Regions from separate parts of the Homo sapiens genome. Here region 2 is linked to region 1. Evidence: fine-mapped expression QTL. Tissue or cell type: testis. Region 1 holds a variant in brackets; the other region holds the start of a gene. All regions are shown on one strand. Distances are from middle to middle.

What was found. PIP is the estimated chance that this variant, and not a neighbour inherited with it, causes the effect.
Region 2: it holds the start of CSTPP1, and the variant in region 1 is fine-mapped to the expression of CSTPP1 in testis (GTEx, PIP 0.96).

Annotation. Positions count from the first base shown.
Region 1 is chr11:47,044,729-47,052,831 of GRCh38, reverse strand. CSTPP1 (centriolar satellite-associated tubulin polyglutamylase complex regulator 1) reads right to left here. Exons shown (of 9, transcript NM_024113.5): 3 at 314-444. Among named protein-coding and RNA genes, the nearest start is that of CSTPP1, 110 kb to the right of the region's middle. The variant C/G (reference allele first, on the strand shown) is at 3,958.
Region 2 is chr11:46,932,587-46,940,689 of GRCh38, reverse strand. It overlaps CSTPP1 (centriolar satellite-associated tubulin polyglutamylase complex regulator 1), which reads right to left and starts at 3,929. Exons shown (of 9, transcript NM_024113.5): 1 at 3,839-3,929. The coding sequence starts at 3,884. RefSeq lists an enhancer at 3,862-4,071.

The DNA.
Region 1 (8,103 bases):
TACCACAGAGAGCCCTTGTAAAGATAAATGAGTTACTACATGTAAAGAGCTACACTTGGCTCTTAATAGGTACCATTAGTGATGGTAGTGGTAATAGTAATATCTTTGACATAAACCAGACAACTCCTCAAAAGTGAGGTATTCTAAATGCCTTGAATAGCATGCATTCAAACAATATTTATAGGAACAAAAGAAAAAGTTTGAAAGAGAAAGAGAGGAAAAGAGAGAGAGAAAGAAAGAGAGAGAGAGGAAGGAAGGAAGGAAGAAAGGAAGGAAGGAAGGAAGGAAGGAAAAAGAATTTGGGAAGACTTACCGCCATTTTTGCCCACAGTTCGGAAGCATCTCCAGAAGGCCCGTAAAAATGATACCCTATTGTGGGGGGTGGCTTGGACGAAGCTGAATTCTCGAAAGAGAATGTGTGTTCCCTGGCATACACTGTTAAAACTGCAAAGAGAAAAGTCAAGAAGTCATTGTTAGATGGAATCCAGAAGGCTGGAATCAGAATGAAAAATTGAGACCAGAGAGAACCACTGCCAAAAACGGGGAATTTTTCTCCCCAACAAAACTCTGAACTCTAGATTAGACCTAGTCCTTCTATGGGGAAGTCTCTTCATATAACCATACCTTTCCGAAAACTCTTGGAGGCCAGTTCCTCTGAGTGCTTCCCACCTTCCACAGGTACACACAGAGGACATCTGAATCAGTCATTCGAGCAACGCATATGGAGGAAAGCCTTTTAGCCTCTAACTGGATGACACTGGCACTCATATCTTTCTTTTTGGAGAATACTTTTCCCTCTACTGCATTTGGAATTAGGTTTCCTTAAAGATATTATTTCTGGGCTGGGCGCAGTGGGTCACGCCTGTAATCCCAGCACTTTGGGAGGCCAAGGCGGGTGGATCACTTGAGGTCAGGAGTTGGAGACCAGCCTGGCCAACATGGTGAAACCCTGTCTCTACTAAAAATACAAAAATTAGCTGGGCATGGTGGCGTGCACCAGTCATTCCAGCTACTCGGGAGGCTGAGGCAGGAGAATCACTTGAACCTGGGAGGTGGAGGTTGCAGTGAGCCGAGATCATGCCACTGCACTCCAGCCTGATCAACAGAGTGAGACTCAGTCTCAAAAAAAAAAAAAAAAAAGAAAAAAGATATTATTTCTGTACTCTCCCTGGCCTATACCAGCTGCCATAAGGATGACATGGCTATGGGGACATAACTGGAGTGGCTGTTCCAGTTTGGGGTGGTTTTATATATCTCTCTGACAATAACCCCAGAGACAAATCCCATGTGCCAAAGGATATAAAGGGTCCAAACAGAACAAGAAAGGAAAATAGAAACAAGGGTATAAAGTGGCCCCTAAATGAGAGTATGAAGCAAAGCCCCAGGGCCCAAGTGAGTCATTGTTTAAGCTGGGCCAGGGAAGGGAAAAAAATATACTCCATTGCCTTTGGGTTTTCCTGCCAAAGAAATAAAGGCTGTAGAGCCTGGTGTAATCTAAAAGTGGAAATTCCACCGAAGAATAGGCAATTATCCAGTAATCATCCCTACCAGAGTGAACTTTAGGTTCCAGAAAACTTCTAAATTCCCTGACAAGTAAATCAGGAGTGGAAACATGTTAATCTTTGTGGAGAGGCAGACATTAAATTTGAAGATGGCAAGCAATGGGGGGAACGATGGTAATTCCAAATGCCAGTTTTCATTTGTTGACCATATAAAGGGGGGGAAAAATCTGACTCTGAATGGAACAGGAAAAAATTTCAGGAGGCATCTATTCCGTTTCCCTTCTCCTAGACCAACTTCATGGGAAAGTATCTAACTTGTCTTTAATATAGAGTGTGTTTTCATTTAGAATAAAGTTAGTTCCTTCCTAATAGTAACAGCACTGTATGAAAAAGCAAATTATATACTCTTCTCCTTTCATGGAGAGCTAGCATAGAAATCTACTTCTAAGACACCCTGAGGAAGTATGCGGACATCACCTGGCAAAAGATTAGGTTAGAAGAGGGGCTTTCAAAAGCAATGAAAGTGTTAACCTAACCACGCAGTGCTATTGTCTTAAGGAAAGGAAAATAAAAAATACAGCAAATGAGCTGTTATAGGTAAATGCAGTAGGCTACATTTCCAGCAAATGAAGTCTGAAATGATAATACTGTAGCCTAAATTTATGAAACTGTCCAGCAAAGAAGTAGTCCCAAATTGTGCTTCATATTCTAAGGGGGAAAAAGCTGATGTCTAGGTCATGGTCTAGTGAAATTATAGCTTTGGTATAGCTTTTAAAGACCATCTCAAATGCCAATTTTGTGTAAAGTCTTTTCCTGATTTTATCTCCCATGCCCAATTTCCATCGTATCTCACTTAAAACTCTCTAACAGTGCTCACAATTTGCTACTTTGTTTTAAAGTTACTGGACTTTCTCCTATTAGACTGTCAGTTCTATGGAGTAAGCACTTAGGCTGTACTCATCTTTGCCTCTACTATATTACCTGACTCATTACCTAACTGATAGTTACTCATAAATATTTGTGGAAATTGATTTAGAAAGATAAGAAAGACAGGTAAGTGATGCCAGGTAGAATGTATCTTTGAAGCTAGCCACACAGGAAATATTGAAAGTCTATATCTTACTAATTTTTCTAAATTCCAGGCTTTGAGTCTGATATTTTTATTATAATATTGCAATACCAGCTTTATTTTGATTGGTATTTTCCTGGTGTATCTGTTTCTGTGCCTTTAATAACCCTTCTAGGTCATTTTGTTTATGTATATCTCTTGTAAATAGCATATGGCTAGATTCTGCTTCTCTACCCAACCTTACAGTCACTATATGTTAACGAGTAGCTTTTCAGTGTATCTGATTAATTTCTGACCTGATATCTTATTTTGTCTTTCCCATTATCCATTCTTCTTTCCCTTTCCCCACCTTCTTTTCCCACCTTCTATTGTGTTAGTAAAGTTTTGTTTTAATTCTTTTCTACCCTCCCTGTTAGTTTGGAAGCTATAGACAAAATCTATAATCTTTCAGTATTAAAATTTAACATAATCAGCCAGGCATGGTGGTGCATGCCTGTAGTTCTACTCAGAGGCTGAGGATGGAGGATCGCTTGAGCCCAGCAGTTTGAGTCCAGCCTGGGCAATATGGTGAGACCCCATCTTAAAACATTAACATAATATTTATCTACATTGTTTTTCCCCAGACATTGTCTCCCACTGTCACCCAGTCTGGAGTGCAGTGGCCCCATCTTGGCTCACTGCAACCTCTGCCCTCCAGGCTCAAGCACTGATCCTCCCACCTCAGCCTCCCAATTAGCTGGGACCAAAGGCAGGCATCATCACACTCAGCTATTTTTTTGGATTTTTAGTAGAGATGGGGTCTTACCATGTTGCCCTGACTGGTCTCAAACTCCTGAGTTCAAGTGATCCACCCATCTCAGCCTCCCAAAGTGTTGGGATTACTGGCATGAGCCACCGCGCCTGGCCTATCTACATATTTTTGAAAATGTCTGAAAATACTCATTATCTTTATAACTCTCCAAAACAAGACAATGGGCCAGGCATGGTGGCTTATGCCTATAATCCCAGCACTTTGGAAGGCTGAGGTGGGTGGGCTGCTTGAGCTCAGCAGTTTGAGACCAGCCTGGGCAACATAGTGAAACCTTGATTTTATGAAACATTACAAAAATTAGCTGGGCATGGTGGTGCATGCCTTTGGTCCCAGCTACTTGAGAGGCTGAGGTGGGAGGACTGCTGGAGCCTAGGAGGTCAAGGCTGCAGTGAGCTGTGATCGCACCACTGCACTCCAGCCTGGGTGACAGAGCAAGACCCTGTCTCAAAATAAATAAACAAACAAAACAAAAATAAAAATAAAACAAGACAAAGCCCAAAGCACACTTTCTATAACTTATGTGCAGTCTTCTCATCTTCTGATATTATTTTTTAGAATGTGACTAGAATCTATCT[C/G]TTTTTAAATTGGAAAACTTTTTTAATGTGGTAAACTATACATAATATTTATCATTTAACCATTTGCAACTGTACAATTCAGTGTCATTAAATATATTCACAATGCTGTGCAACCATGAACACTATCAATACCCAAAACTTTTTCATCATCCCCAACAAAAACTCTACATCAATTAAACAACAACACCCCCTTCTGCCCACCCCCCAGACCCTCATAACCTCTATTCTACTTTCTATCTCTATATATTTGCCTATTCTAAGTACCTCATATAAGTGGAATCATGTAATATCTGTCGTTCTGGCCTATTTCACTAAGAATAATGTCTTCAAGGGCCGTACATGTAGCATGTATCAAAATTTCTTTCTTTCTTTCCCTCCTTCCTTCTTTCCTTCCTTCATAATTTTTAAATAATAGAGACAGGGTCTCCCTATGTTGCCCAGGCTGGTCTCAAGCCTTGAACTCCTGGCCTTAAATGATCCTTCAACCGTACCTTCCCAAAGTGTTGGGATTACAGGTGTAAGCCACTGCAGGGCCATAAATTTATTTTCTTTTTAAAGCAGAATAATATTCCTTTGTATGTATGTACCATCTATTGTTTATCCATTGATCTGTTGATGGACCCTTGGGTTACTTCCACCTTTTGGCTATTGTGAATAATGCTGCTATGATTTGTATACAAGTATCTGTTTCAGTTCCTTCTTTAATTCTTTTAGATGTATACCTACAAGTGCAATTGCTGGGTCATATGGTAGTTATAGGTTTAACCTTTTGAGAAACAACCGAACTGTTTTCCAGAGCAGCTGTACTATTTTACATTCTCACTAGCAATGCACAAGGGCTCCAATTTGTCCACCTCCTCAGCAACACATGCTATTTTCCTTTTTAAAAAACAGCCAACCTAGAAGATGTGAAGTGGCATCTTATTGTTGTTTTGATTTGCATTTTACCAATGACTAATGATGTTGAGCATCTTTTCATGTGTTGGCCATTTGGATATCTTCTTTGGAGAAATGTCTCTTCAAGTCCTTTGCCCATTTTTAAATTGGGTTGTTTTGTTGTTGTTGAGTTGCAGGAGTTCTTTACATATTCTGGATATTAATTCCTTATTGGATATATGATTTGCAAATATTTTCTTCTATTGTGTAGGTTGTCCTTTCACTTTCATGATAGTATCCTTTGATGCACAAAAGTTCTTAATTTTGATGAAGTCCAATTTATCTATATTTTTTGTTCCTTATGCTTTTGGTGTTATATCCATGAAATAATTGCTAAATTTAATGTTATGAAAACTGTCCCCTGTTTTCTTCTAAGAGTGTTGTAGTCCAATTTCATTCTTTCACACGTGGATATCCAGTTTTCCCAGCACCATTGGTTGAAAAGACTGTCCTTTCCCTATTGAATTGCACCTTTGCAGGAAATCAAATGACCATATATGTAAAGATTTATTTCTGGGCTTCCTAATCTATTCCAGTGGTCTATATGTTTGTCCTTATGCCAGGACCATAATACTTGAATTACTGTGGCTTCATAGCTAGTTTTATAGTTGGGAAGTTTGAACTTTCCAATTTTATATTCTTTTTTCAAGATTGTCCTGGCTATTCCATATGATTTTGAGGATTAGCTTCTTCTCTCAGTGAAAAAGCCTATTTATTTTGATAGAAATTTTGTTGAATCGCCAGGTGCGGTGGCTCACGTCTGTAATCCTAGCACTTTGGGAGGTTGACGCGGGCAGATCACCTGAGGTCAGGAGTTCAAGACCAGCCTGGCCAACATGGTGAAACCCTGTATCTACTAAAAATACAAAAATTAGCCAGGTGTGGTGGCGGGCACCTGTAATCCCAGCTTTTCTGGAGGCTGAGGCAGAAGAACCGCTTGAACCCGGGAGGTGGAGGTTGTAGTGAGCTGAGATTGAGCCACTGCACTCCAGCCTGGGAGACAGAGTGAGACTCCATCTCAAAAAAAAAAAAAAGAAAAGAAATTGTGTTCAATCAACCAGCCTGACCAACATGGTGAAACCCCATCTCTACTAAAAATACAAAAATTAGTCGGGCATGGTGGTGGATGCCTGTAATCCCAGCTACTCAGGATTCTGAGCAGGAGAATCACTTGAACCTGGGAGGTGGAGGTTGCAGTGAGCCGAGATCACGCCACTGCACTCCAGCCTGGGTGGCAGAGTGAGACTCTGTCTCAAAAAAAAAAAAAAAAAAAAAAAAGAAAAGAAGATAAAAGAAAAGAAAAGAAAATTGTGTTGAATCAGTAGATTGCTTTGGGTAGAACTGACATGTTAACAGTGTTACATCATCCTATCCATGTACTCAGGGTGTCTTTCTATTTATTTAGCTCTTCTTTAATTTCATTCAGCAATGTTTTATAGTTTTCAGTGTGCAAGTCTTTCACCTCCTCAGTTAGACTTATTCCTAATAGACTAAATCTTTTGGATGCTCTTTTAAACAGAATTGCTTTTCTTAATTTCCTTTTTAGATTGTTCATTGATGGTATATAGAAACAACTGATTTTTATGTGTTGCTCTTGTCCCCTGCAACTTTGCTGAATTCATTTATAAGCTCTAGAAGTTTTTTTTTTTTTTTTTTCTTTTGGTGGATTCTTTAGGATGCTTTTTATGCATAGGACCATGTAACCTGTGAATATAGTTTTACCTTTTACTTTCCAATTTGGATGTCATTTATTTCTTTTGATATCTACCTTTTCCTTTTTTTTCCTTTTTTAAAAAATTCACCCCCATACCTACAGGACAATATACCTTTTTAAATGTAAAAATTACCACTTTAGGCTGGGAGTGGTGGCTCACGCCTGTAATCCCAGCACTTTGGGAGGCTGAGGCGGGTGCATCATGAAGTCAGGAGTACAAGACCAGCCTGGCCAACATGGTGAAACCCCGTCTCTACTAAAAATACAAAAATTACCCAGGTGTGGTGGCAGGTGCCTGTAATCCCAGCTACTCGGGAGGCTGAGGCAGGAGAATTGCTTAAACCCGGGGGACGGAGGTTGCAGTGAGCCTAGATGGCACCACTGCACTCCAGCCTGGGCATCAGAGTGAGACTCCATCTCAAAAAGAAAAAAAAGAGAAAAAAGAAAAAAATGACTACTTTAAAAAAATCAATAATTAATTAAGTTTACCTACATTTATCAAATCAATTTTCATGCTCACTACTGTTTCCCACATTCTGCTCCTTCACTCTTGGTTCAATTATTTCTTGCTAAAGAAATAAGATCCATAATCCTTTAATAAGATCCATAATCACTTATCTGAAATCCTGGGACCTTTCTGGTTTGGAAGTGACAAATTTTGAGATTTTATAAAGGTTGCACAAACCAGATGTGATATAACACCTTCAGCAGGGTTGGGATAGCACCCCATGGATTCAAACATATTAAAGTCTCCACAGTGAAACATATAAGTATTCACACTAAGTGGGATAAACAAAGACCAAAATTAGCCCATGAACTAGTTTAGGTCAAGTTTGCCCCACAAATGAGGTTGCTGAAAACTTACCAAAGGACAACTTCAGGTTTTCAAAGCTTTTTTTGAATTGTGAAATTTATTAATATACATAAACCTGTAGTTCTTTCAGCAAAAGCCTGTGAGTGGTAAATGCTCTCAGTTTTCATCTACCTCAAAATATCTTTATTTTACCTTCTGGAGTGAAATTTAATTCAGTGGAGAATTCTGGTTGTTACTTATCTTCTCTCAGCACTTTAAAGATACCACCCAGTTGTCACCTCGCACCTATCACTGATATCAAGCAAACTGCTGTCAAACTCCTGCCATTCCTTTGGAGTTAATCATTCTTATAATTCATATAAACAATTTTCTTTATCATTAATGCAGATTCTACAATGTATCTACCATGTAGGTTTATTTTTATTTATCTTGCTCAGTACTTTAAACTGACTTCTGTTTTTTGTCAGTTCAGGAAAATTCTCAGCCCACATATACATTTTTTGAGACAGGATCTCACTTTGTTGCCCAGGCTGGAGTGCAGTAGCATGACCATAGCTCACTAGAAGCTTGAACTCCTGGGTTCAAGTGATCCTCCCACCTCAGCTTCCTGAGTAGCTGGGACTACAGGTGCACACAACCATGCCTGGCTAAACTTAATTTTTTTGTAGAGATGGGAGCTCGC
Region 2 (8,103 bases), 110 kb after region 1:
TCTCTCTATATATATGTCTATATATATGTTCATGTATATATGTGTATATATATAGCTTTCAAAGACCAATCAGCCCTTAAACTTGGTAAAAAGGCACTCAACTTCATTTAAAAATGCATATTAAATCTACTCAGACTATCTGTCACTTAGATTGAAAAAAATCCAAGTTTGATGTATTTTGTTGTCAGCACAATGGGGAAACAGGCATTCTCTTTCATTGCTGGTGGCAAAATGGTACAACACCTATTAAGGGCAATCTGACAATATCTATAAGTACTTCAATGCATATGCCCTTAATCCACCAATTCCACTTTGTGGAACTTATTCTTGCAGATACACTTGCAAAGGAACAAAACTGCAGGTTATTCATTGCAGCATTCTTAGTAACAGCAAAAGGCTAAAAACAACTTGTTTACCAGTGCGGGACTGGTTAAATAAATTATTTAAATACTATATAGCTAAAAATGAATTTCATGAAGAACGAAGAAGCTCCCTACTGACTGAGAAATTACTTCGAGGCCAGGCGCAGTGGCTCACGCCTATAATCCCAGGACTTTGGGAAGCCAAGGTGGGCAGATCGCTTGAGCTCAGGAAGTTCAAAAGCAGCCTGGGCAACATGGAGAAACCCTATCTCTACCCAAAATACAAAAACTTAGCCAGGTGTGGTGGCTCGTGCCTGCAGTTCCAGCTACTTGAGAGGCTGGGGCAGGAGAATGGCTTGAACCCAGGAAGTGGAGGTTGCAGTGAGCCGAGATGGTGCCACTGCACTCCAGCCTGGGTGACAGAGTGAGACTCTGTCTCAAGAAAGAAAGAAAAGAAAAAACAAAAGAAACGGAAATTACTTCAAGATGTATTAAATGAAAAAGTATGCACTGTATACTCCTTTATGTATATAATAAACTCTGGAAAGATACACAGGAAAACAATAATAGTGGTTACTTTTGGGAGGCTGAGGATGGATGGAAACTGGGCAGATGGAGGCAAAGGGGTAGGCTTTTCACTAAAAACATCTACCTATCTATCTATCTATCTATCTATCTATCTATCTATCTATCTATGCATTTTAGAGGCAGGGTCTCACTCTATCATCCAGTCTGGTCTTGAACTCCTGACCTCAAGCAATCCTCCTACGTCAGCCTCCCAAAGTATTGGGATTACAGGCATGAGCCACCATGCCAGGCCTAAAAAATACTTTGAATCAAGTTTCCATATTACCAACCTTAAAAAATATTTTAAAATTAATTTTTAAAATAAGTTAAACAAAATGTAAACCAGAATTGTTTTTCATTTAAAAAGATGTTGGCTGGGCGCGGTGGCTCACGCCTGTAATCCAAGCAGTTTGGGAGGCCGAGGTGGGTGGATCACCTGAGGTCAGGAGTTTGAGACCAGCCTGACCAACATGGAGAAACCCATCTCTACTAAAAATACAAAATTAGCCAGGCGTGGTGGCGCATGCCTGTAATCCCAGGTACTAGGGAGGCTGAGGCAGGAGAATCACTTGAACCCAGGAGGCGGAGGTTGGGGTGAGCCCAGATCGCATCATTGCACTCCAGCCTAGGCAACAAGAGTGAAACTCCATCTCAAAAAAAAAAAAAAAAAAAAAAAAAGATGTAAGCCAGGTGCAGTGACTCACACCTGTAATCTCAGTACTTTGGAAGGCCACAGTAAGAGGCTTGCTTGAGCCCTGGAGTTCAAGACCAACCTGGACAACATAGTGAGACTCTTTCTCTACAAAAAATTAAAAAATTAACCAGGGATGGTGGCATGTGCCTGTAGTCCCAGCTACTTGGAAGGCTGAGGTAGCAGGATCACTTGAGCCCGGAGGTTGAGGCTGCAGTGAGCCGTGATAGTGCCACTGCACTCCAGCCTGAGTGACAGTGCCAGACATTGTCTCAAAAAAAAAAAAAAAGAAGAAGAAAAAAAAAAAAGATGTGCATGGTACATCCATACAATGGAATATTATTCAGAAATAAAAAGAAATGAGTTATCATGCCACAGAAAGACATGGAGGAAACTTAAATGCTTACTGCTAAGTTAAAGAAGCCCATCTGAAAAATTTACACACTGTATGACTCCAACTACATGATATTCTGGAAAAGGCAAAACTTTAGAGACCATAAGATCAGTGGTTGGCAAGGGCTGCAGGGGGAGGGAGAAGGATCAATAGGTGGAGCACAGGGGATTTTTCAGGACAGTGAAACTATTCTGTATGATAATGGAATGGTGAATACATGACATGCATTTATCAAAACCCACAGAACTGAACAACACAAAGAACCCTAATGTAAACTATGGACTTTAGTTAATAATATGTATCTATAATAATATATCTATATAATAATAATAATATATAATATATTATTATATATTATAAATATATATGTTTATCCATTGTAACAAATGTACCACACTAATGCAAGATGTAAATAATAGCGGAAACTGTGAGTGAGGGAGACCCAAGGTATATGGGAACTCGCCGTACTATCTGCTCAATTTTCTGTAAACTTAAAACTTCTCGCCATGTGCAGTGGCTCACGCCTGTAATCCCAACACTTTGGGAGGCCGAGGTGGGCGGATCACCTGAGGTCAGGAGTTTGAGACCAGCCTGACCAACATGGTGAAACCCCGTCTCTACTAAAAATATAAAATTAACCTGGCGTGGTGGCGCATGCCTGTAATCTCAACTACTCGGGAGGCTGAGGCAGGAGAATCGCTTGAATCCGGGAGGCAGAGGTTGCAGTGTACTCCAGCCTGGGCAACAGGAGAGAAACTCTGTCTCAAAAAACAAAACAAAACAAAACAAAACGTCTTTAAAAAAATAAAAGTCTATGAATTATTTAAAATGTGTATTGTGGCCGGGCGCGGTGGCTCACGCCTGTAATCCAAGCACTTTTGGAGGCTGAGGCGGGCAGATCACGAGGTCAGGAGATCGAGACCATCCTGGTTAACACGGTGAAACCCCGTCTCTATTAAGTATACAAAAAAGTAGCCGGGCGAGGTGGCGGGCGCCTGTAGTCCCAGCTACCCGGGAGGCGGAGCTTGCAGTGAGCCAAGATCGCGCCACTGCACTCCAGCCCGGGCGACAGAGCTAGACTCCGTCTCAAAAATAAAATAAAATAAAATGTGTATTGTGTGCATATGTGTGTGTGTGTACATATCTATGCGTGTGTGTGCCTTTTTTCATTCATTAAATGCCTTATACACTAAAGATGCTCAACAAAGTACTACATATACAGTCTTAGCTCAAGAGCCAAGTCAATATCTCAAGTTCTGTTGGAGTGGGCAAATCCGGTTCTGATCCTAGCGCTACCATTTTCTAGCTGTGTGGCCTAACTTAACGCAAGTTACCTCTTCAGCCCCAGTTTCTCCACCTGCAAAACTGGAAGAAAACACGGTAATTCCTCCTAGGGCTGTTGAGAAATTCAAATGAAGAATGATGCATGAAAAATGCTTAGCACAGTGCCTAATGAAAAAGAAAAGCTCGAAATGTTCGCTGACTGATTTGGCACTTGAGGTTCCAAGGTTATTCTTACTCCACTACCAGCATATCAATAATACCCCAACAGGGCCCCAAATCCTCAACGCCAACCTGACCCATTTGAACACAATCCACATTGCCTGAGTTCCAGCCCCTACACTTCAAACATTCTTTACTTCCCAGGTGCTTTTTTCCTTCCTGCTCGGCCTTACAGGCTCAGGCCCTGGAACCCCCGCCTCTCCGCCCCTCCCCATACCACCCGGACCCGATCCCACTCAGACCCCGCCCCCGCCTCCTCCCAGACCCTGGCCTAATTCGTCTGCACGTCTTTCCCTCCCCAAAGTTAAAGGGGGTTCCTACCCAGATACTCGTAGTCCGGTAGGGCTAGGCGCTCCGGACTCAGCATCCTTTGACCGGGGTGGCTTCAAAGCTCCAGCTCTCCGGCTTCCGGAACCCAGGTTGCCGTCTCTCTCCGTTGCCATGGCACCCACGCGGCGGAAGGGGGACGGGAGCTGGAGGAGGTGTCACACAAACAGTCTCCGTGTCGCAAAGTGGAGCTGGCCACTCAAGTTCCGGGGGCAGTCGCTTCACGATGGTCCAGGTTTCTTTGGACTCCCATTCTTGAAGACTTGGTTTTAGAGGAATCTGAGATGAAGAATTCTTTTGAATCCGTTATGTTTCCCAGTGTCGAAGAATTACTGTCAGCCGCCCATATACGCAGTTTCTGAATTTCATAACTATCCCTGCTTTTATACACTGTTTATCCTAACTCAGTAATAGCCCCCGCCCTTTGGCCCCCATAAACACTTAGTATCCCATTAGCTATTTTTATCTCTTTGGTATTTACTATCTTAAATTGCTACAAAGTGCTTACGTATGCATATACCCTGGATGCTTCTAGAGGTCAGAGATGTGTCTTTTCTGCCTATGACGGCTGGACACACAAAAGGTACTCATTAAGTCCTCTGAACTAATTGCCATTTCTTCTCAATTCTCACTCAGTCGCCCAGGCTGGAGTGCAGTAGCGTGATCTCGGTTCATTGCAACCAGCGCCTCCCGGGTTCAAGCGATTCTCCTGCCTCAGCCTCCCAAGTAGCTGGGATTACAGGCGCCCGCCACTCCGCCTGGCTAATTTTTTGTGTTTTTAGTAGAGATGGGGTTTCACCATGTTGGCGAGGCTGGTCTGCAAACTCTTGACCTCAGGTGATCCGCCGACCTCAGGTGATCCGCCTGCCTCAGGCCTCCCAAAGTGCTGGGATTACAGGCGTGAGCCACCGCGCCCAGGCTCAATTCCTTTTTATCTTTGGTTCTTCTTTCTATTCCTAGCCCTTACTATTTGGTACCTTTCCCAGGTGTCTTTCCTTTTTCCTACCAAGACATTGCTCTTCTTGAGGGAGAGGGGCTGCAGAAACGAGGACACCAGTTAGATTTTTTTCCCTATATGCCCAATTGCTCACTTCTTCTTTAAGAGAATATTCACTGGTTTTCAAGTTCCTAAATATTTCTTTTCGCCCCTCTCCACTCCTGACAACAGGTCAGAGATCTGTAGCACTAGACACAGTTCAGACATAGCAGAAAAAGCCACTCTGTCCTCACTTTTTTAGTGCCCTCCCCCTCCAACAAGGTGAGGTTTGTGAAAAAGAGACAAAGAAAACAAAATCAAGCTATCAAAGGAATGACTGGGAAACCAGTAGACCACCTACACTGGGAGGAAAAGGAAAGAGGAGGTTCTTCTCTTTGTGTTCCGAGTGGCCTATTCTTAGCGTCCTCCAGTAAGGAGCCTCAAACCTCCTAATTCTTGCTTTCCCTTAAAATTGTATATGTGTCTCAATTCTAGGCTCCTGTGAGTCACTCTAAGTTTGGATGTGGTGAGGTTAAAAGGACAGAGCCAAAGTAGGAGCAGGGCTTAGTGTCTTGAGGCAAATTTACTAATTTGGTATTTGGTGTGAAGTCCAGCAAATCTGATTTTTTTTTAATTGCCTTCTTATCTGCTTCCCCCATCTAGCTTGAGGTTATGGGAGGTTCATATGTTCCATAACTGTGGCTTTTTACTATTTTATTAATAAGGTAATACCATAGTAATTATTAAGTGATAATTTTACTTTATTCCCAAGCAACTTGTAGCTATTTGCAAATAATCTTATTTGTCCTCATAAAAACTTTCTGCTGAGGTGGGCGGATCACGAGTTCAGGAGTTCGAGACCAGCCTGGCCAATATGGAGAAACCCCATCTCTACTAAAAATACAAAAATTAGCCAGGCGTGGTGGCGCACGCCTGTAATCCCAGCTACTCAGGAGGCTGAGGCAGAAGAATCACTTGAACCGGGGAGGCAGAAGTTGCAGTGAGCCAAGATCGCACCACTGCACTCCAGCCTGGGCGACACAGCGAGACTCCGTCTCAAAAAAAAAAAAAAAAAAAAAAAAAAAACCTTTCTAAGGCACTTTTCCATTTTCTAACTAGGGAAACTGAGGCACAAGTCACAACAGTGACTTGTCTAGTGACTTGTCTAGCATCATGCAGCCACATAGTGGTAGAGCTACAACTGGATCTCAGCTATCCCAACATCCAGGCCAGTGGTCTGACCACTAAACCACACAGTCTCTTTTTTTAGGGTTTGTTGACCTGGCTTTTATTTATTTATTTTTCCTTTTGCTCTGCCCTGCTAGCAACTGGAAGCTCCCAGATAGAAGAAGATAATGTTGAGTCCAGGCTGAACATTTGACATCGTCTTATTTGTGGAGCATTATCCTGGGACTTGGCGGGTGCTGGCTGCTGGGGTCTGTGTGGTGGAGCTGGGAACCAGCCCCAAGAATATAGCTTTGTTTGGGCATTAACCCATTTGTGGTTATAATAATGATAAGTTTCAGCACCAGTGGCGCCCGACTGTTAATGACTCAAAGAAGGCTAAATAAGAACAAGATGTCATCTCTGGAGCAATTTGTAGGTTTTTCCTACAGTTCCATCCCTTCCATAAAAATCCGAAGGACCCCTGTATTCAAAGTCAGTCTTCCACTCTGAATGTCCTGAACAGTCTATTGAGGAGGAGGACTTAGAAAAGTAGGAGGTTGCTAGAGTAAGGCTTCACAAAAATTTGAAGTTTCACCGAAATAACAGGTGGCCTTACTGGTAGTGGAATTACTGACTGTTTACATTTTTCTTCTTTATATTTTTCTATAGTCTTAAACTTTCTATAATAGGCATGTATTATAACCTGAAAACAAATAATAAATGAGTGGCCTGAAAATCTTTAAAATTTTTTAAGCAGATGTGATGACCTTCCAGACAGTGTTTGTTTTTCCCAAAAAGAAGCCACTGCTAGATTTCTCTTCTGTCACAGATTACATGATAATAGATTTTTGAAACACATTGGTTATTGGTGAAATTTTTCAATGAAACATACACTACATCAGTCTTAAGAAGAGTAGAAATATATAAGAGTTGTTAAAATTAAGTGTATTTTTTGTGACTTGAATGTGAAAGAAAGAAAAAAAATGTCAGCCTTTGATTTAAATTGACTTTTCAGGTTCTTAACTTATCATAATATATTTCTTAAAAATTTACCAAAAAAAAAAATCACCGAGGTAAATCGGTAAGTCAGAAGACAACTCCATAATCCTGAAAAGAGGCAAGTGATAAGATATTGATGATAAATAGAGCATCGGATGTTAAAGGCAGTACTACAGCATGACGACTGTAAACATCAAATTCAGAACAATAAGAAAAAAACAAGAGAGAGAATATATTGAGATGGTTTTTGTTTTTGTTTGTTTGTTTTTTGAGACAGAGGCTCACTCCATCATCCAGAAAGGAGTGGAATGGTGCAATCTCTGCTTACTGCAACCTCTGTGTCCCAGGTTCAAGCCATTCTCCTGCCTCAGCCTCCCGAGTAGTTGGGACTACAGGTGTGTGCCACCACACCCGGCTAATTTTTGTATTTTCAGTAGAGACAGGGTTTCGCCATGTTGACCAGGCTGGTCTCGAACCCCTGACTTCAAGTGATCCACCCGCCTCAGTCTCCCAAAGTGCTGGGATTACAGGTGTGAGCCACTGCACCTTTTGTTTTTTGTTTGTTTGTTTGTTTTGTTTTTTAGTATATATAAGGTCTCCCTTTGTCACCCAGGCTGGAGTGCAATGGCACAATCACAACTCACTGTAGCCTGGAATTCTTGGGCTCAAGTAATCCTCCCACCTCAGCCTCCTGAGTAGCTGGGATCACTGGTGCATGCCACCACATCCAGATAATATTTTTAATTTTGTAGAGACAAGGTCTTGCTAGGTAGCCCAGGCTGGTTTCGAATTCCTGAGCTCAAGCAATCCTCCTGCCTCAGTCTCCCAAAGTGCATGAGCCACTGCACCCAGCTGAGACATCAATTTATCAGATTATAATTTCTGATTTTATAATGAGAAAATTAATAGACATCTCTGGCTCTGCAGAAGACCTATTAAGAGATTGATAGGGAAGAAAATCCTCCCTATAATTGAAGACTATAGAAAAGCAAACGGTGAATACACTAAACAGTTTTAAACTTCAAGGAAGCAATAAGGAAAGAATAAATGCAGGCTGAATTATTGCTATAAAACAGGTTCAAGAAACTAGGACAAGCTTTTATCAACTGATCAAGCA